Regions from separate parts of the Homo sapiens genome. Here region 1 is linked to region 2. The links come from fine-mapping of genetic effects on gene expression. Tissue or cell type: monocytes after LPS. Region 2 holds a variant in brackets; the other region holds the start of a gene. All regions are shown on one strand. Distances are between the middles of the regions.

Region 1 (8,627 bases), 27 kb before region 2:
AAAAATACAAAAATTAGCCAGGGGTGGCACTCACGCCTGTAATCCCAGCATTCTGGGAGGCTGAGGTGGGCGGATCACGAGGTCAGGAGTTCAAGACCAGCCTGGGCAACATGGTGAAACCCCATCTCTACTAAAAATACAAAATCAGCTGGGTGTGGTGGTGGGCACCTATAGTCCCAGCCACTCAGGAGGCTGAGGCAGGAGAACTGCTTGAACCTGGGAGACAGAGGTTGCAGTGAGCCAAGACCATGCCACTGCACTCCAGCCTCGACAACAGAGCCAGACTCCGTCTCAAAAAAAAAAAATTAGCCAGGCACGGTGGTGGGTGCCTGTAATCCCAGCTACTCGGGAGGCTGAGCCAGGGAGGCTGAAGCAAGATAATCACTTGAACCCTGAGGCAGAGGTTACACTGAGCTGAGATCTTGCCACTGCACTCCAGCCTGGGCGACAAAGCCAGACTGTCTCAAAAAAAAAAAAAAAAAAAAAGTTTCAACTTTTTTTATACAGTTGCGCTTAGTATCAGTTCAAACACCCTAAACATAATTGTCTGAAAAATACATTTTCTACAAGTGTTTGCTTTCATAGGAAAATAGTTTCAATTGGTGATAATCCCACCCACCTTTTAAAAACTACCTTCTCACATTTCTTTTTTGTGGACAAAGACAAGTTGTTCCATTTAGGAACTCAATGCTATAAGTCAAATGTTTTAAAGTTTGAGGCTTTTGTTAAGTGGGCATGTGCAAGGTTAATCACTGAGTTTTCCTTTTTATATAAGCCCTCAATTTCTTTCAGAAACTACACTGCATCTTAAATGTGTTCACTGTCACAGAAATAAATACACAAACTTTTTTTTTTCTGTTTTCTTTTTGAGACGGGGGTCTTTCCACGTTTCCCAGACTGGTCTAGAACTTCTGGGCTCAGGCAGTCCTTACGCCTCGGCCTCCCGAGGTGCTGGGATTACAGGCGTGAGCCACCATGCACGGCCAGTCTAACTTGCTGAAGGTAAACCCCAAGTTAGGATATGTACTTTAGTAAGACCACGGTAAGATCTCTTGGCTGTTCCTCTGTGCTTTACATGTAACTTCACATAATCCTCCCAACCTAGATATTGTTACTCCATGGAGAAATTTCTGAACAAAGAGGTTAAACAACTTGTGCAAGGTCACAAAGATAGCAAAATGGAACCTGGATTTGAACCAGAGTCCTTTTTCTCAAGCACTACTTAACTAACCACTCAAGTAACAATCAGAAAAGAGAACTGAACTTATGGACTAGAAAGCTTCTCTTACCTGTATGAGTTCTAACATGCTGAACATAATTGTTTTTTCTGTCTGAAAAATAGTTGCATTTTCCACATGTGTATACTTTCCTTGGAAAATGGTTTCTTAAATGTTTCCTCCAGTGATACTCGCTCACTGTTGTGTATGTGCAAATGATACACTTGTAGACTCGCTCATTATCCCCAGCTCTGGTGTGGTGTTTCAGGTGTGCTGTATAGTGATCATATCGATTAGTATTGTAGCCGCAGCGGTCACAGCGAATGGGGCCCTTGGAGAAATCTCCCTCTTCTGCAGTGGAAGAGCCAGATTCCCTGGCTTTTGCCTGCTTCTCTGCACTCTCTTCCACAAAAAATTTCTTAGCACTGTGAACTCTGATGTGATGCACAAACTGTTCTTCAGATTCTGCTTCATATTGGCATGGCTTACAGCGAAAGGGTTTGGTCTTCGAGCTCTTGCCTTTGTCCTCCGCTCCAGGTGTTTCAGGGGGAAGATCTTTATTTGAACTGTAAATATCTGGAGCACCTGATGCCTCAAATACAGGCTGAGGTTCTACGACGCTGAGTTCCAAACTTCTCAGTTCCATGTTTTCCAGTCCATGAGGTTCACCTTTTATATCAGCAGACTCTTCAAGTCCTTCTCCTTCTTCACTATCTGAAAAGTTGTTATCCCCAACCGGCATCAGTTCTGCCATCTGTCTTTCTTCACCGACCAGGTAATCACAGCAGCTGCCATTTACTTCCCCAGTTAAGGCCACATTTGCCAGCATAATAAGCTGAGGTGCGGCCAGTTCAGCTTTGGAAAGGTCATGCAAGTCATACATGTCGTTAGGCAGGGCCATTCCAATGTTGCCACTGCTGGTAAACAGCCCTCCTCCTCCAGAAGACTGCCCCATTACCTGGGTGGCCATAACTGTATTCTGAATTAAAAACAAAACAAAACAAGAGCACCAGTTTAAACACTACTGTTACTGGCTTAAAACCACATCGCTGTAATTCTTCATAACTTAAAAATTTTCCAGTATGATCTTTATAACTCAGTAAACTTCATCGCCTATTAAAAACAAATCTTTAAAATAGTTGTTAATTCCCAATAGTCTACTGCAATCACCAAAAAAAAATTTCTACTATCCCTATAAAACAATTCTACCAATTGTTTGCACAACTCATTCATCATTCAGCCACTGGCATGTGGTGCCTCCTCAAGCACTTTTAATTGTTCTGGTGGGGATAAAAAGTAACCTTCATTTTTACTGTTAAAATTATTTTAAAAATTCAAAACATGAGTAGTAAATTATTGTCCTCCCAACTTTTCCCCCCTTCAACAGTTCAATGGTCTGAATCAGAAAGCCCAGAAATCCACAAGCCATTCAGTGCATTTATTAAGTACACAAACACATCTGGAAAGTACAAGCCTGTAATAATTGTTCAACTTAATTGGATTTCGCATGAACTCAACTAACTCCAAAAGAATAAACTACTGTGAAAAAGTAGCAGTCAGCCCCTTAATTTTTCGACAACTCCACAGGCTTAAAAGAAAAAACATTTATGGACCCCTTTTCTTGTGAAAAAGGAAGTTTGATTTATTCAAAACTTCACAAATAAAAATTAATAAGCTTATTTTTCTGCAGGCTGAAGTTCCACAACACTGAATTCCAAGCTTTTCAATACGAATAAAATCATCGTGCAACTCAACTCGACAATCAGCAACTTTCTTGCATTGTGCTTGACTTGGCCTACTTGCCTAGTGGAAGCCATTACAAGATCACCTTCTTCAAAACAAGTTGGGCTTTCTAGATGCTACGTTACTTCTCAATCTAAAAGGTGCCATTCTCAAACGAAGTGTTCACTCGCAAATTAAAAAAAGTAAGAAGTTCTAAGAAAATAAAGTTAAACCGAAAATACAAAAAGTAACCCGCTTCACCCAAGTGTATAAACACAAACCGGTTTAGTTCTACGTACCAACAAAAGTTGGAAGCAAATGCCATCACAGAAAACAGAGGGCGAAGGCTGTCCCGGGGCTGAACAGCCCAAGCTATTGGGTAATTTGGCCCAACATCGACTTTTCTAATTGCTCCCTAACCCCTAACTGCCACCCCAAATGGAATTTTAACGATTGTTAGGAAGACCGTCCAGGCACAGCCCGAAAGCCCAACGTGCTGCACGAATTCCTCCGTGCTGCTGCCACCAGCGCCTGCCTCGGCGGCGGCATTCCTAACTGAAATAGGCATTCGGCCATTTTCTCAAAATACCAAACACAAAGCAGCTCTTTGCAAACTCGGGCGCTCTCGCTTCCTCTCGCCTCGGCCCGCTCACTGCACACATTTACACACCAACTCGCGGGAGTCGCCCCGACACTCGTCCTGAGCCTTTTCCTGCGCTCTCCAACACTAAAACGGGGGAGGGGATCAAGCTCGAGGCGCTGTTTGGCCGGAACCAGTCCTCCCCGAGTCCAGGCAGCCCCCTCCCCAGCCCTAGGGCCCCCGTCCCGGGAGAGGACGGAAAGTTACCGCGCAGCCGGCGTCCGGGCTTCTCCGACCGCCCCCGGGCCCCTCCGACCGCCCCGGGGCTCGCCCAACGCCCAGGGCCGGGGAGGCTCCGCGGGCGCCCTCGCGAGGCGTCGGGCTCCGAGCGCCGGAGGGGGCCCCCACACGGGCCAGCCGCCACCCCCGCGCCCCGGAAGTTTGCGAACTTCACTCCCCCACGGCGCCCGGCAGGACGCGCGCCCCAGCCCCGCCAGCTCCAGCGGTCGGGTGGCCGGACGCGGGGGCCAGCGGCGCCGGACGGCTGAAGCGCAGAAATCGCTGTCCAGCCCCGCAGGCGGAACCGCCCGGGCCCCGGGGCTGACTCAACCCGCCCGGCCGCACTCAACGGCGCCTTCCGGCGACAGGGAGAGGCCCTGGGGGAGGGGGCCAGGAGGGCCGCGGGCCGGCGCGGGGCTGCGGTGGGACCCGGGGGCAGGAGGAGGAAGCAGAGGAAGTTTCAGGACTACGGGCCCGAGCAGCTCCGCTCCTTGGCCTCAAAGGACCTGACTCGGTGGAGCGTCCGGGCCAGCGCGGAGGCGGCGTCCCAGCCTCCAGTGGGGAGGGGGTCCAGGCGACGCGCTGCTCCCAACAAACGCCCCCAGCCCCCGGGCGGCTGCTGTGTAACCCGATCCTGCTCGGCCGCCAGCCCCCGCCCGGCGGGGCCGCCGCCGCCGGAGCCACAGTATCTGCAAATCAGCCCTGGACAGCGCCTGACTCCGCGTCCTTCCGCGCCCTCCCCGTCCCGCCACTGCCGCCGCCCGGGCGGCCCTCCCCCACCCTGACCGAGCCCCCAGCCCAGCGCCCCACTTACCGGCCTTCCTCGGTGAGGAGGGGCGGGCGACCCTGAGTCGCCGCTCCTTCTCCGACTACTTTTCTTTGTTGCTGGAGTTTCGGGGGAGAGGTGGGGGAGGGTGGTAAAGTTGGGTGCTGGGGCCGTCGTGGACCAAGAAGGCCCAGGAGTGGGGCTGCAGAGGGTGCTCAGGCCTCCGGGCCTCGCCCTGCCGTCTCGGCTGCGGCAGCCGCCGCCAGGGTCTGGGGCCCCGGGCCTCGGCGGCGCTCGCTCCGCTGCTGCGCCGCGAGCTCGCGGCAGCCGCACATTCCAACACAGGACGCTGCGCCGCGCACCCAGTCCGCGCCGCCGCCGCCGCCACCGCCCGCGGGACACGCCCCCTCCGACGCCCGCGCGCGCCCGCGAGACACGCCCCCTCCGACGCCCGCGCGCGTGGCCGCTAGGCGCGCCCCGCCCCTCTACCAAGCAAGGAGTGCCCCAGTCTCCAGCTCGCCTGGGGGCGCGTCTAGGGGGAGCCGCCCGTAATCCTCCCGGCCCCTCACTCCTGCCCTTAGGTCAGAAAAGAGGCGGGCCCCACTCCCTTTCTCGATTTCTATTACAAACAAACAACAAAAGTTCCCCCCAGCCCTGGCGTGCATGCATGAGAATAGAGCTGTTAAAAGAAGAATCCGCAGGCTTTGACGGGTCTCTTTAGAGCTATTGTCACCGGCCTCTCAAGTCTAAAGCGCTCCAAGATACCCTTCAGATCTCTTCAAGTCTCCACCCATAGCTGTCCTTGACTAATTAAGCTTCGTTTTAAGCGTCTGCGGTAAAAAAAAAAAAAAAAAAAAAAAGTCTTCCAAATTTCAAACTACCGGAGGGGGAATGCAGTCAGTTTGGGAGAAGTGAGAAGAAAACGTTTCAGGAAGGAGGTTATGGACTCAGAAAGCGTGAGCGTGAGGACTGAGGGGACAGATCCCTAGACGTGGCAGGTAGCAGGTCATTGCTGAGCCCGGAAAGCACGACTGCAGGGGAGGAATTACCCTCAGATGACAGAAGAAAAGGTGGTGAGGACGGGGAGGCTGCCTGGGGCCACGGTGTGTCGGAGTAACCGGGCTCACGTCTATGAAGCGGGATAACCAAGCGGAATGCCTAGCCCATAGTCATGTGCTAACAAAAACAAAAACAACAAAAAAGAACAGAGAGAGAGTAATTCCACCCCCTTTCACACCTGAAAGAGCTTCTCAGTCTGCCTTTGATACCTTCCTAAACGTCAGTCGTAAGTCACACCTGTCCTCAGAAGCATAGTGGCTCCCCATGACTACAAGCTTAAAGCTTAAACCCCTTAGTGTGGCGTTCAAGCCCCTACTTAACTTGACCTAGATAAGTCTGACTATTGCTTGGTATTACAACATAAGTAGCAAGTGCTATGGGGGTTTGCCAGTAGGAAGATGGATCCCAAGAGGTTCTAGAAACTTTTCACAGTAGATGTATTCAGTCTGACCTTGGAGAATGAGGAAAACTTCAACAGGTGGAAAGTAGGGCAAGGAACACTCTACACAGTGAAAAGGGCAAGCTCAAAATCCCAAAGCAGTTGTTAAGACATCCCAGCTTCTCCTCAGGGTACCTCACTTCCTTCTCTTTGAAGTTCCTTTATTTGTTTCTCTTAGGGCAGGGCTTCCAGACTCTTCATTTCCTGGTATACCCACGTAGGACCTCTGTTTCCCTCTATCTGGACAATATATTACTAATTAATGCAGTCTCCGATGCAAGATGAAATGAAGACCCTAAGGTGCTCGACCACCAAAAGTTTCAATGAGGCAATTTCAAATGTAACACCTCTCCATGAATCAAACCTGAAAAGTATTCATTTTCATTGAACCAAAGAGACAGGAAGGAAGGGAGGGAGGGAGGGAGGAAAGGAAGATCGACATTTTTAGGACTGGTACAAACTTTTCTATATATATTTTATTTGTTTAACTAAAATCAAGTTTGAGGTCACATGGCTTTTTTAGATGCTGTAGCCCAGGGTACAATTCAGGCCTCTACCAAGGTTGTCAAAGACATAAACTTGTTTTCTTTCCCTTTTTTAGGTCCAAAAAGGCAAAAATGAAATGTCTCTTGTTAAACTTACTAAATGTCCTTCATTTCCTCAATCTGACTGCTTACTGGAAATGTCTTATTAATTGCAAATTTATTCCCACATATTGTGATGCAAATAGAAGAATGGCGAATGGGCAGCTGCATTCATTTAAAATTAGCAGAGGCCCTTGTTCAAGGGATGGCATATTCAGAGTGACCCAAATTATCATGACATGAAGGCCACAGGTCAAATTCATAGGCCAAATTACAAATCAATTGAAAATTTTCTTGAGGGAAGCTGTTGCTATGAACTTGAATTCCTAACTGTTTTTCAAAAGTCTGTATTTTACTTTGCTGTATCCAAACTTTAGGATCTTCTGCAAGATAAAAACTCTGAAATGAGAATGAGTTCTGCTTTTCTTATATGGTTTTTTTCCTGCATATTTAACTCATCAATTTTTTTATTTTAATTATCATATGTTCTTAATAGTATTTTCTCTAGAGAGATTTCTTTCTTTTTTTTTTTTTTTTTTTTTTTGAGACAGAATTTGGCTCTTTTTGCCCAGGCTGGAGTGCAATAGCACGATCTCGGCTCACCGCAACCTCCGCCTCCCGGGTTCAAGCAATTCTCCTGCCTCAGCCTCCCGAGTAGCTGGGATTACAGGCATGTGCCACCACGCCAAGCTAATTTTGTATTTTTAGTTAGAGACGGGGGTTTCTCCATGTTGGTCAGGCTGGTCTCGAACTCCCAACCTCAGGTGATCCGCCTGCCTCGGCTTCCCAAAGTTCTGGGATTACAGGCGTGAGCCACCACACCTGGCCAATTATATATATATATATATATTATTTTTTTTTTTGACATGGAGTCTTGCTCTGTCACCCAGGCTGGAATGCAAAGGTGCGATCTCGGCTCACTGCAACCTCCACCTCCCGGGTTCAAGTGATTCTCCTGCCTCAGCCTCCCGAGTAGCTAGGATTACAGGCACGTGCCACCTTGTCTGGCTAATTTTTGTATTTTTAGTAGAGATGGTGTTTCACCATGTTGGCCAGGCTGGTCTTGAACTCTTGACCTCAGATGATCCACCTGCCTGGGCCTCCCAAAGTGCTAGGATTACAGGTGTGAGCCACCCCGCCTGGGAGTCTTGCTCTGTCGCCCAGGCTAGAATGCAGTGGCAAGATCTTGGCTCACTGGAACCTCTGCCTCCTGGGTTCAAGCAATTCTCCTGCCTCAGCCTCCCGAGTAGCTGAGATTACAGGCACCCGCTAGGACGCCCAGCTAATTTTTGTATTTTAGTAGAGATGGGGTTTCACTATGTTGGTCAGGCTAGTCTCGAACTCCTGACCTGAGGTGATCCACCCGCCTCGGCCTCCCAAAGTGCTGGGATTACCTGTGTAAGCCACCGAGTCCAGCCAGCATCATCTACTCTTGCTGCCGGTTGGACTCTGACCTCTTGTTCTGGTTCTGATAACTGGAATAGTGTCTTACTCATTATAGGCATCAACAGCTTGAGCCAGGGAGGTTTTCCCTTCATGCTGAGAAGGGAAGGAGGTGAACAAGAGAACTTGAGACTTGAGCTGGGCTCCTTCCTGCCTTCTTTTGGAGCCTAGATCACATTTGGAACCCGCTCCCATTTTCGTCCAATCCTAATGCCCTTCCCTGCTGTTTCTGCTCCCATTTTCGTCCAATCCTAATGCCCTTCCCTGCTGTTTCTGTCTCTAACATTTATTACTAACATGCTAGGTATTTTTATTTATTTACCCTACTTAGGAACTTAAGCTCCAGAAAGGCAGAGACATTTTTTTATCCCCAGCACCTATAACTCGTTAGTTGCTCAACAAATATTAGTTAGATGAATGGTTACAAAATCCTAGCTTGGTATCACAATCTCTCAAAGTGGGGACCATCCTTACCCATGTCGGTACCCAACGTTCAGTACCCATCACAGTCTTCCCTCATGTTAAGCATGAGCCTGCC
Region 2 (8,627 bases):
TTTCAGCTTCATCAGGTCATTTAAGGTCTTCTCTACACTGTTTATTCTAGTCAGCCATTCATCTAACCCTTTTTCAAGGTTTTTTTTTTGAGACGGAGTCTCGCTCTGTCACCCAGGCTGGAGTGCCGTGGCGCGATCTCGGCTCACTGCAAGCTCAGCCTCCCGGGTTCACGCCATTCTCCTGCCTCAGCCTCCCGAGTAGCTGGGACTACAGGCGCCCACCATCACGCCCGGCTAATTTTTTTGTATTTTTAGTAGAGACGGGGTTTCATCGTGTTAACCAGGATGGTCTCGATCTCCTGACCTCATGATCCACCCGCCTCGGCCTCCCAAAGTGCTGGGATTACAGGCGTGAGCCACCGCACCCGGCTTTTTCAAGGTTTTTAGCTTCCTTGCAATGGGTTAGAATATGCTCCTTTAGCTCAGAGAAGTTTGTTATTACTGACCTTCTGAAGCCTACTTCTGTCAACTCGTCAAAGTCATTCTCTGTCCAGCTTTCTTCCATTGCTGGCGAGGAGCTGCAATCCTTTGGAAGAAAAGAGGCGCTCTGGTTTTTAGAATTTTCAGCTTTTCTGCTCTGGTTTCTCCCCATCTTTGTGGTTTTATCTACCTTTGGTGTTTGATGTTGGTGACCTACAGATGGGGTTTTGGTGTAGATATCCTTTTTGTTGATGTTGATGCTATTCCTTTTTGTTTGTTAGTTTTCCTTCTAATAGTCAGGTCCCTCAGCTGCAAGTCTGTTGGAGTTTGCTGGAGGTCCGCTCCAGAACCTGTTTGCCTGGTTATTATCACCAGCGGAGGCTGCAGAACAGCAAATATTGCTGCCTGATCCTTCCTCTGGAAGCTTCGTCCCAGAGGGGCATCCGCCTATATGAGGTGTTTGTCAGCCCCTACTGGGAGGTGTCTCCCACTTAGGCTACACGGGGGTCAGGGACCCACTTGAGGAGGCAATCTGTCTGTTCTCAGAGCTCAAACGCCGTGCTGGGAGAATGACTGCTCTCTTCAGAGCTGTGAGACAGGGATGTTTAAGTCTCCAGAAGTTGTTTGCTGCCTTTTGTTCAGCTATGCCCTGCCCACAGAGGTGGAGTCTATAGAGACAGTAGGCTTTGCTGAGCTGTGGTGGGCTCCACTCAGTTTGAGCTTCTCAGCCGCTTTGTTTACCTACTCAAGCCTCAGCAATGGCGGACGCCCCTCCCCCAGCCAGGCTGCCACCTTGAAGTTTGATCTCAGACTGCTGTGCTAGCAGTGAGCAAGTCTTTGTGGGTGTGGGGAATCTCCTTGACTGCAGGTTGCTAAGACCTTGGGAAAAGTGCAGTATTTTGGTAGGAGTGTCCTGTTTTTCCAGGTACAGTCTGTCATGGCTTCCCTTGGCAGGAAAGGGAAATCCCCCAACCCCTTGCACTTCCCAAGTGAGGCAATGCCCCACCCTGCTTTGACTCACCCTCCTTGGGCTGTACCCACTGTCCAACCAGTCCCAATGAGATGAACCAGGTACCTCAATTGGAAATGCAGAAATCACCCGTCTTCTGCATCGATCATGCGGGAGCTGTAGACCAGAGCTTTTCCTATTTGGCCATCTTGGAACCCACTAGACTTCTACTTTCAAATAATACTTTTCTTACTGTCTGAACCTTTTTTTTTTTTTGAGACAGAGTCTCACTCTGTTGCCCAGACTGGAGACTGTCTGAACTTTTTATTATAATAAGTATAATTATTTTATTTATTTATTTGGCTAAAAAAATTTTTTTTGAGACAGTCTCTTGCTCTGTCACCCAAGCTCAGTGCAGTGGCACAATCATGGCTCACTGCAGCCTCGAACACCTAGACTCAAGCAATCCTTCTGCCTCCCTAGTATCTAGGAATACAGGAATGAGCCACCCCATCATGCTTAGCTAAGTTTTTTGTTTGTTTGTTTGTTTGTTTTGAGACAGAGTCTCCCTCCACTGCCCAGGATGGAGTGCAGTGGCACGATCTTGGCTCACTGCAACCTCCACCTCCGGGGTTTAAGTGATTCTCCTGCCTCAGCCTCCTGAGTGGCTGGGATTACAGGCATGCGCCACCACACCCAGCTAATTCTTTTTTATATTTTTAGTAGAGACAGGGTTTCATCATGTTGGTTAGGCTGGTCTCGAACTCTTGACCCTGTGATCCATCTGCCTCAGCCTCCCAAAGTTCTGGAATTACAGGAGTGAACCACCGTGCCCAGTTGAGCTAATTTTTTAATTTTTTGTAGAGAGGGGTTCTCGCTTTATTTCCCAGGCTGGTCTGGAACTCCTGGCCTCAAGTAATCCTCCCACTTTGGCCTTCCAATGTGCTGTGATTACATATGTGAGAAGTTGAGGTTGGCCGGCTAAGATCATAACATCTTTTTTTTTTTTTTTTGAGATAGGGTCTCACTCTGTCACAATGCTGGACAGGCTGGAGTGCAGTGTTGTGGACATGGCTCACTGCAGTCTTGATCTATTTTTTCTTTTTTTTCCCATAGTATATGTAACCAACCTATGTCACTGCTAAGGCATTCTGTGAGAGACCTGCCTAGGCCTCCTAGGCCCCCAGCTGTCTTAATTTTGAAGATCCTACCAATCATTTTCAAATGCACCCACCCACATAAAATATATATACATATACATACATAGTATACAAATATATTTATTTATTTGCAATAATGTAACATCTTTTTCTATTAAAAATACTTGGCTATAAGTAACTTCTTTAATTTACCAGCAATAATTTCTCAATAATTGTTCTACCTATTTAGGATATCTTGGAAGTGGGAAAGTGTAACTTTTTTTTCTGAAATATAATGACATTTTTATAAATGCTAAATCTATGACTAAGTTAGCTGACATAATGTATTTTATAGACATTTTATTAAATCTTTACTAATTTCTGTCTTACAGTTTACCTTTCAAATTTTGGAGCCACCAAAATAAACAACTTTCAGGTTCTAACATTTTCATAAATTCTTGTAATCCTGTAGACATGTTTGATTCACTTAGAAATGATTGTCGCAGCCTGGGTGCGGTTGCACATGCCTGTAATCTCAGCACTTTGCGAGGCTGAGGCTGGAGGATCACTTGAGCCCAAGAGTTCCAGATCAGCCTAGGGCATCATAATGAGACTTCCTCTCAAAAAAAAAAAAAGAAAAAAAGACCAAGCAAGGTCAAGGTCAACATCATGAAACCCTGTCTCTACTAAAAATACAAAAAATTAGCTGGGTGTGGTGGTGGATGCCTGTAATCCCAGCTACTTAGAGGCTGCGACAGGAGAATCGCTTGAGCCTGGGAGGCGGAGGTTGCAGTAAGCCGAGATCACGCAATTGCACTGCAGCCTGGGAGACAAAAGCGAGACTCCGTCTCAAAAAAAAAAAAAAAAAAAAAAAAATTATAGAGCTCACATTTGCTTACTCATTGCTTCATTCGCTCAACAACTTTTTTTTTTTTTTTTTTTTTTGAGACAGAGTCTTGCTCTATCGCCCAGGCTGGAGTGCAGTGGGGCGATCTCGGCTCACTGCAAGCTCCGTCTCCCGGGTTCACGCCATTCTTCTGCCTCAGCCTCTGGAGTAGCTGGGACTACAGGTGCCGGCCACCACGCCCAGCTGATTTCTTTTTGTATTTTTAGTAGAGATGGCGTTTCACTGTGT[T/C]AGCCAGGAAGGTCTCGATTTCCTGACCTCGTGATCCGCCCGCCTCGGTCTCCCAAAGTGCTGGGATTACAAGCGTGAGCCACCCCGGCCTCAACAACTATTATGTAGTTGTAACATGCCAGATTTGCCCCTTGAATCTGCCCTCACCGGTTTAAGATTGGAATAAAAAGGACGTGTTAAAGGAGAGGAAATGGAGAGGTGACTAGTCAAATGTCTTCTGTATACCAGAGCGTCTATGTGGAGTAGAAAGATTGGGAAGAGGATAAAATTGAGGGTTCTATTGGAAGAGCTCCTCCTTGAGCACATTCTCTAAAGAAGGCCAACCAGCCACTTGAAAATAAGCTAATTAATTTTTATTTATTTATTTTTTCTGAGATGGAGTCTCGCTCTGTTTCCTAGGCTGGAGTGCAGTGGCGCGATCTCGGCTCACTGCAAGCTCCGCCTCCCGGGTTCACGCCATTCTCCTGCCTCAGCCCCCCGAGTAGTTGGGACTACAGGTGCCCACCACCATGCCCAGCTAATTTTTTTATATTTTTAGTAGAGATGGCATTTCACCGTGTTATCCAGGATGGTCTTGATCTCCTGACCTCGTGATCCACCTGCCTTGGCCTGCCAAAGTGCTGGGATTACAGGCGTGAGCCACCACGCTCGGCCTAAAGCTGATTAGTTTTTTTAACTGTCCACCACCAGCCTCCAAGACCCAGAGACTTCAGATCGAAAGCAAATCTCCACCTTCCACATCACTGTTTTAGCAACTGTAAATTGTCACCTTTGCTTTCTATGTTGTGAGGGTTTAGCACGAATAACAATCCCTGAATTAAATAAAAATAAAAATAAAAACACAGACTCTCTTTAAGGTTAACATGTAATATAAATCATGTATAGACAACTATGCCAGCCTGGCCAACATGGTGAACCCCCGTCTCTACTAAAAATACAAAAATTAGCTGGGTATGGTGGCGCCACCTGTAATCCCAGCTACTTGGGAGGCTGAGGCATGAGAATCACTTGAGTCCAGGAGATGGAAGTTGCAGTGAGCCGAGATCATGCCACTGCACTCCAGTTTGAGTGACAGAAAGAGACTCTGTCTCAAAAAAAAAAAAAAAAGAAAAAAAGCCAGGCACGGTGGCTCACACCTGTAATCCCAGCACTTTGGGAGGCCAAGGTGGGCAGATCACCTGAAGTGGGGAGTTCGAGACCAGCCTGATCAACATGGAGAAACCCCGTCACTACTAAAAATACAAAATTAGCCGGGCATGGTGGCACATGTCTATAATCCCAGCTACTCGGGAGGCTGAGGCAGGAGAACCCCTTGAACCCGGGAGGCGGAGGTTGTGGTGAGCTGAGATCGCACCATTGCAGTCCAGTCTGGGCAAAAAGTACGAAACTCTGTCCAAAAAAACAAAAAAAACAAAAAAACCCCACAACTATGTGGTCACTCTTGGTGGTTTATGCAGACAGCTGTGGTGACATTACCCAATTTCAAGGAAAGTTTCTGTGAAATAACATTCATTTGATCGGGGAATGGGGGGCAGACAGGGACTTATAAATACTCACTTCAGTCTCACAACATTCTTTGTGTCATAGGCATGGACTCCCATTTTATAGAAGATCCAAAGAGAGGTTCTGTGCACTTCCAAGGCAAGTGTCATGGAGTCCAACAATCTGGCATTGTGTATGACTGTGGCAATAGGTCCAAACACAGCCCAGCTGAGTCAAGATGCAGATTATTGAGTGCCATGTAAGGATGTGAGTGCCAAGAAGCCCTGGACCTCTTTCCTTTCCCAAACTGTTTGGAAGGCCTTGAGTTAGCACCTATGCCACAACAGTTTTAAAGTGTTGCTTCTTATAAACCTGATTACTATTGACATTTTCAAACATATCAACGTAGAGAGAATAGTGTAGTGAACTTTATATATCCATCACTTGGTAAAGCACTGCTTTTTTTTTTAATTCAAAAACTAGCTGAGTCACATGGGAAGGTCCACGAAAAAAGAGGAAAAGACACAAAGTGCACGACTGGTTTGTAGTCCTAACTGTGCTGTGAATGAACTGTAATGCACTGAGTCATTTATGGTTCCACTCTGGGACTCAGTTTCCTAGTTAACTGAGATGGGATTTCTGGGGACTTTCCAGGCCTTGCATCCTACACTTTGGTTCTCATTCACTCCACATACACTCATGAAGCCACCATTATCTCTTGCCTTAGCTAATCTCCCTTTGCCCATTCCTGCTTCTCTACATTCCATTCTTCTTCTAGCAGCCTAAGAAAGATCAACTTTCAGAAATCCAAATCTCATCATCTGATCACATCATTCGCTGCTAAAATCTCCTCAGTGCTTTCACATTTCTTTCTTTCTTTCTTTTTTTTTTTTTTTTTTGAGACAGAGCTTCACTCTTGTTGCCCAAGCTGGAGTGCAACGGCACGAGCTCGGCTCACTGCAACCTCCACCTCCTGCATTCCAGTGATTCTCCTGCCTCAGCCTCCCGAGTAGCTGGGATTACAGGCACACGCCACCATCACGCCTTGCTAATTTTTTGTATTTTTAGTAGAAACGGGTTTTCACCATGATAGCCAGGCTGGTCTCGAACTCCTGACCTCAGGTGATCCGCCCACCTCGGCCTCCCAAAGTGCTGGGATTGCAGGCATGAGCCACCACGCCCGGTCCACATTTCTTTTCTTTTTTTCTTTTTTTTTGAGATGGAGTCTCGCTCTGTTGCCCAGGCTAGAGTGCAATGGCACGGTCTTGGCTCACTGCAACCTCCACCTCCCAGGTTCAAGCGATTCTTCAGCCTCAGCTTCCCAAGCAGCTGGAACTACAGGCGCGTGCCACCACACCCACCTAACTTTTGTATTTTTAGTAGAGATGGGGGTTTCACTATGTTGTCCAGGCTGGTCTTGAACTCCTGACCTCATGATCTGCCCACCTGGCCTCCCATAGTGCTGGGGTTACAGGCGTGAGCCACCGCACCTGGCAGGCCCACATTTCTTTTAAAGCAATGTTTGAACTGCTTAACAAGCCTATGAGGAACTGCCTGATCTTGACCTCTCTTAGCAGCTCAGCCACACTGACCACTTCCAGCTTCAGCCTCCTTCTGTGTGCTGTTCCAACTACTTGAAGGGTTCTTCTGGGTCTCAGCACCCCACCTATCCCCATTTCACCACAGACACACTTTGCTTGGGCAACTTGCTTTCATTTTTCAGAAATCAGCTTAAATGTCATATCCTCCAGGAAGCATTCATCTGAACTCAACCAAGTCCTGCTAAAGCTATATATGCTCTGTTAGCCCCCAGTACTTGGATTAAGTGGCCCTAAGCACCATCTTAATTAATTAGTTATTTGTGTATTATTTTAATGACTGATTCCCCTAACAGACTGTAAATCCCATAATGTCAGTATTTGCTGTTTTGGTCACCATTACAACTCCAGCACCTAGCACAGTGCCTGGCACAGAATAGCCATTCAAATAAATATTTGTGGACACATGACTAATTCCCTGCTAGGCCTTAGGGATAAAAAGAAGCTCACAATTTAGTGGAGAGTACAGACTGATAAGTCAGTGGGAAGATGAAAACGCATCTCTAGAAGTGCTGGGGGGAAAAGAATGCATGACATCTGAGGAGACCCATGAAAGGGGTGCTTAATGCAGGCTGGGTCAGAATAGGCCTACAGGAGAGGCAACAGTGACTTTGTGGAGGAAATCCATCCATAAGCCTCAAATGCAGAGCAGTATCTGTAGGGAGGGGTGGGGTGACCCTTTAAGAATGTTTAGAGATTCCTACTTGATATTTTCCCTGACTTATTTGGCCTGTAGTCAGGTGCCATCCATTAGAGAATAATCACTGAAAATTTGTCTGCTAGCAAGTTTAAGGTCATCTTGAACTGAAAGTCGAAATAAAATGGACTTAAATGAAATAAGCCAGTCACAGAAAAATAAATACCCTATGTTCTCACTCATACATGGAAGCCAAAAAAGTTGATCTCGGGCTGGGCACAGTGGCTCATGCCTGTAATCCCACCACTTTGGGAGGTTGAGGCGGGTGGATCACGAGGTCAGGAGTTCGAGACCAGTTTGGCCAAAATGGTGAAACCCTGTCTCTACTAAAAATACAAAAAATAGCTGGGCGTGGTGGTGTGAGCTTGTAGTCCCAGCTACTCAGGAGGCTGAGGCAGGAGAATCACTTAAACCCGGGAGGCAGAGGTTGCAGTGAGCCGAGATCATGCCGCTGCACTCCAGCCTGGGCGACAGAGTGAGACTCCATCGCGGGGGTGGGGGTAGTTGATCTCATAGAAGTAGGGAGTAGAGGCTGGGTGTGATGGCTCATGCCTGTGATCCCAGCACTTTGGGAGGCCAAGGGGGAGTTGAAGCCAGGAGTTCCAGAGCAGCTTGGCCAACATGGTGAAACCCCATCTCTCCTAAAAATACAAAAAATTAGCCAGGCATAGTGGCATGTGCCTGTAGTCCCAGCCACTTGAGAGGCTGAAGCTTGAGAATCACTTGAGCCTGGGAAGTAGAGGTTGCAGTGAGCTTACATTGGGCCACTACACTGCAGCCTGGGTGAGAGAGGGAGACTCTGTCTCAAACAACAACAATAACAAAAACAAAAAAAAAAATAGGTTGCAGAATAGTAGTTATTACACCTGGGGAAGGGGGATAGGAAGGGAGGAATAGCCAAAGGTTGGTTCCTGGAGGCAAAAGCACAGCTAGATAGGAGGAATAAGTTACAGTGTTCTATAGCACTACAGGGGGACTGTAATTAACAACAATTTATTGCATATTTTCAAATAGTGAGACCGGCCGCGGTGGCTCACGCCTGTAATCCCAGCACTTTGGGAGGCCGAGGCGGGCATATCACCTGAGGTCAGGAGTTTGAGACCAGTTTGACCAGCATGGAGAAACCCTGTCTCTACCAAAAATACAAAATTAGCCGGGTGTGGTGGAGCATGCCTGTAATCCCAGCTACTCGGGAGGCTGAGGCAGG

Alleles and levels. Alleles are on the strand shown, and positions count from the first base shown. SD is a standard deviation of normalised expression in the study named.
As copies of T replace C in region 2, the expression in monocytes after LPS of the gene that starts at base 4,926 in region 1 goes down (large effect, 1.2 SD a copy in Quach 2016).

What was found. PIP is the estimated chance that this variant, and not a neighbour inherited with it, causes the effect.
Region 1: it holds the start of REST, and the variant in region 2 is fine-mapped to the expression of REST in monocytes after LPS (Quach 2016, PIP 0.92).

The regions. Positions count from the first base shown.
Region 1 is chr4:56,904,199-56,912,825 of GRCh38, reverse strand. It overlaps REST (RE1 silencing transcription factor), which reads right to left and starts at 4,926. Exons shown (of 4, transcript NM_005612.5): 1 at 4,613-4,926; 2 at 1,290-2,196. The coding sequence starts at 2,187. RefSeq lists enhancers at 2,680-3,609, 4,540-5,469 and silencers at 3,700-4,549, 4,660-5,049, 5,149-5,443.
Region 2 is chr4:56,877,281-56,885,907 of GRCh38, reverse strand. No RefSeq gene overlaps it. Among named protein-coding and RNA genes, the nearest start is that of REST, 26 kb to the left of the region's middle. The variant T/C (reference allele first, on the strand shown) is at 3,644.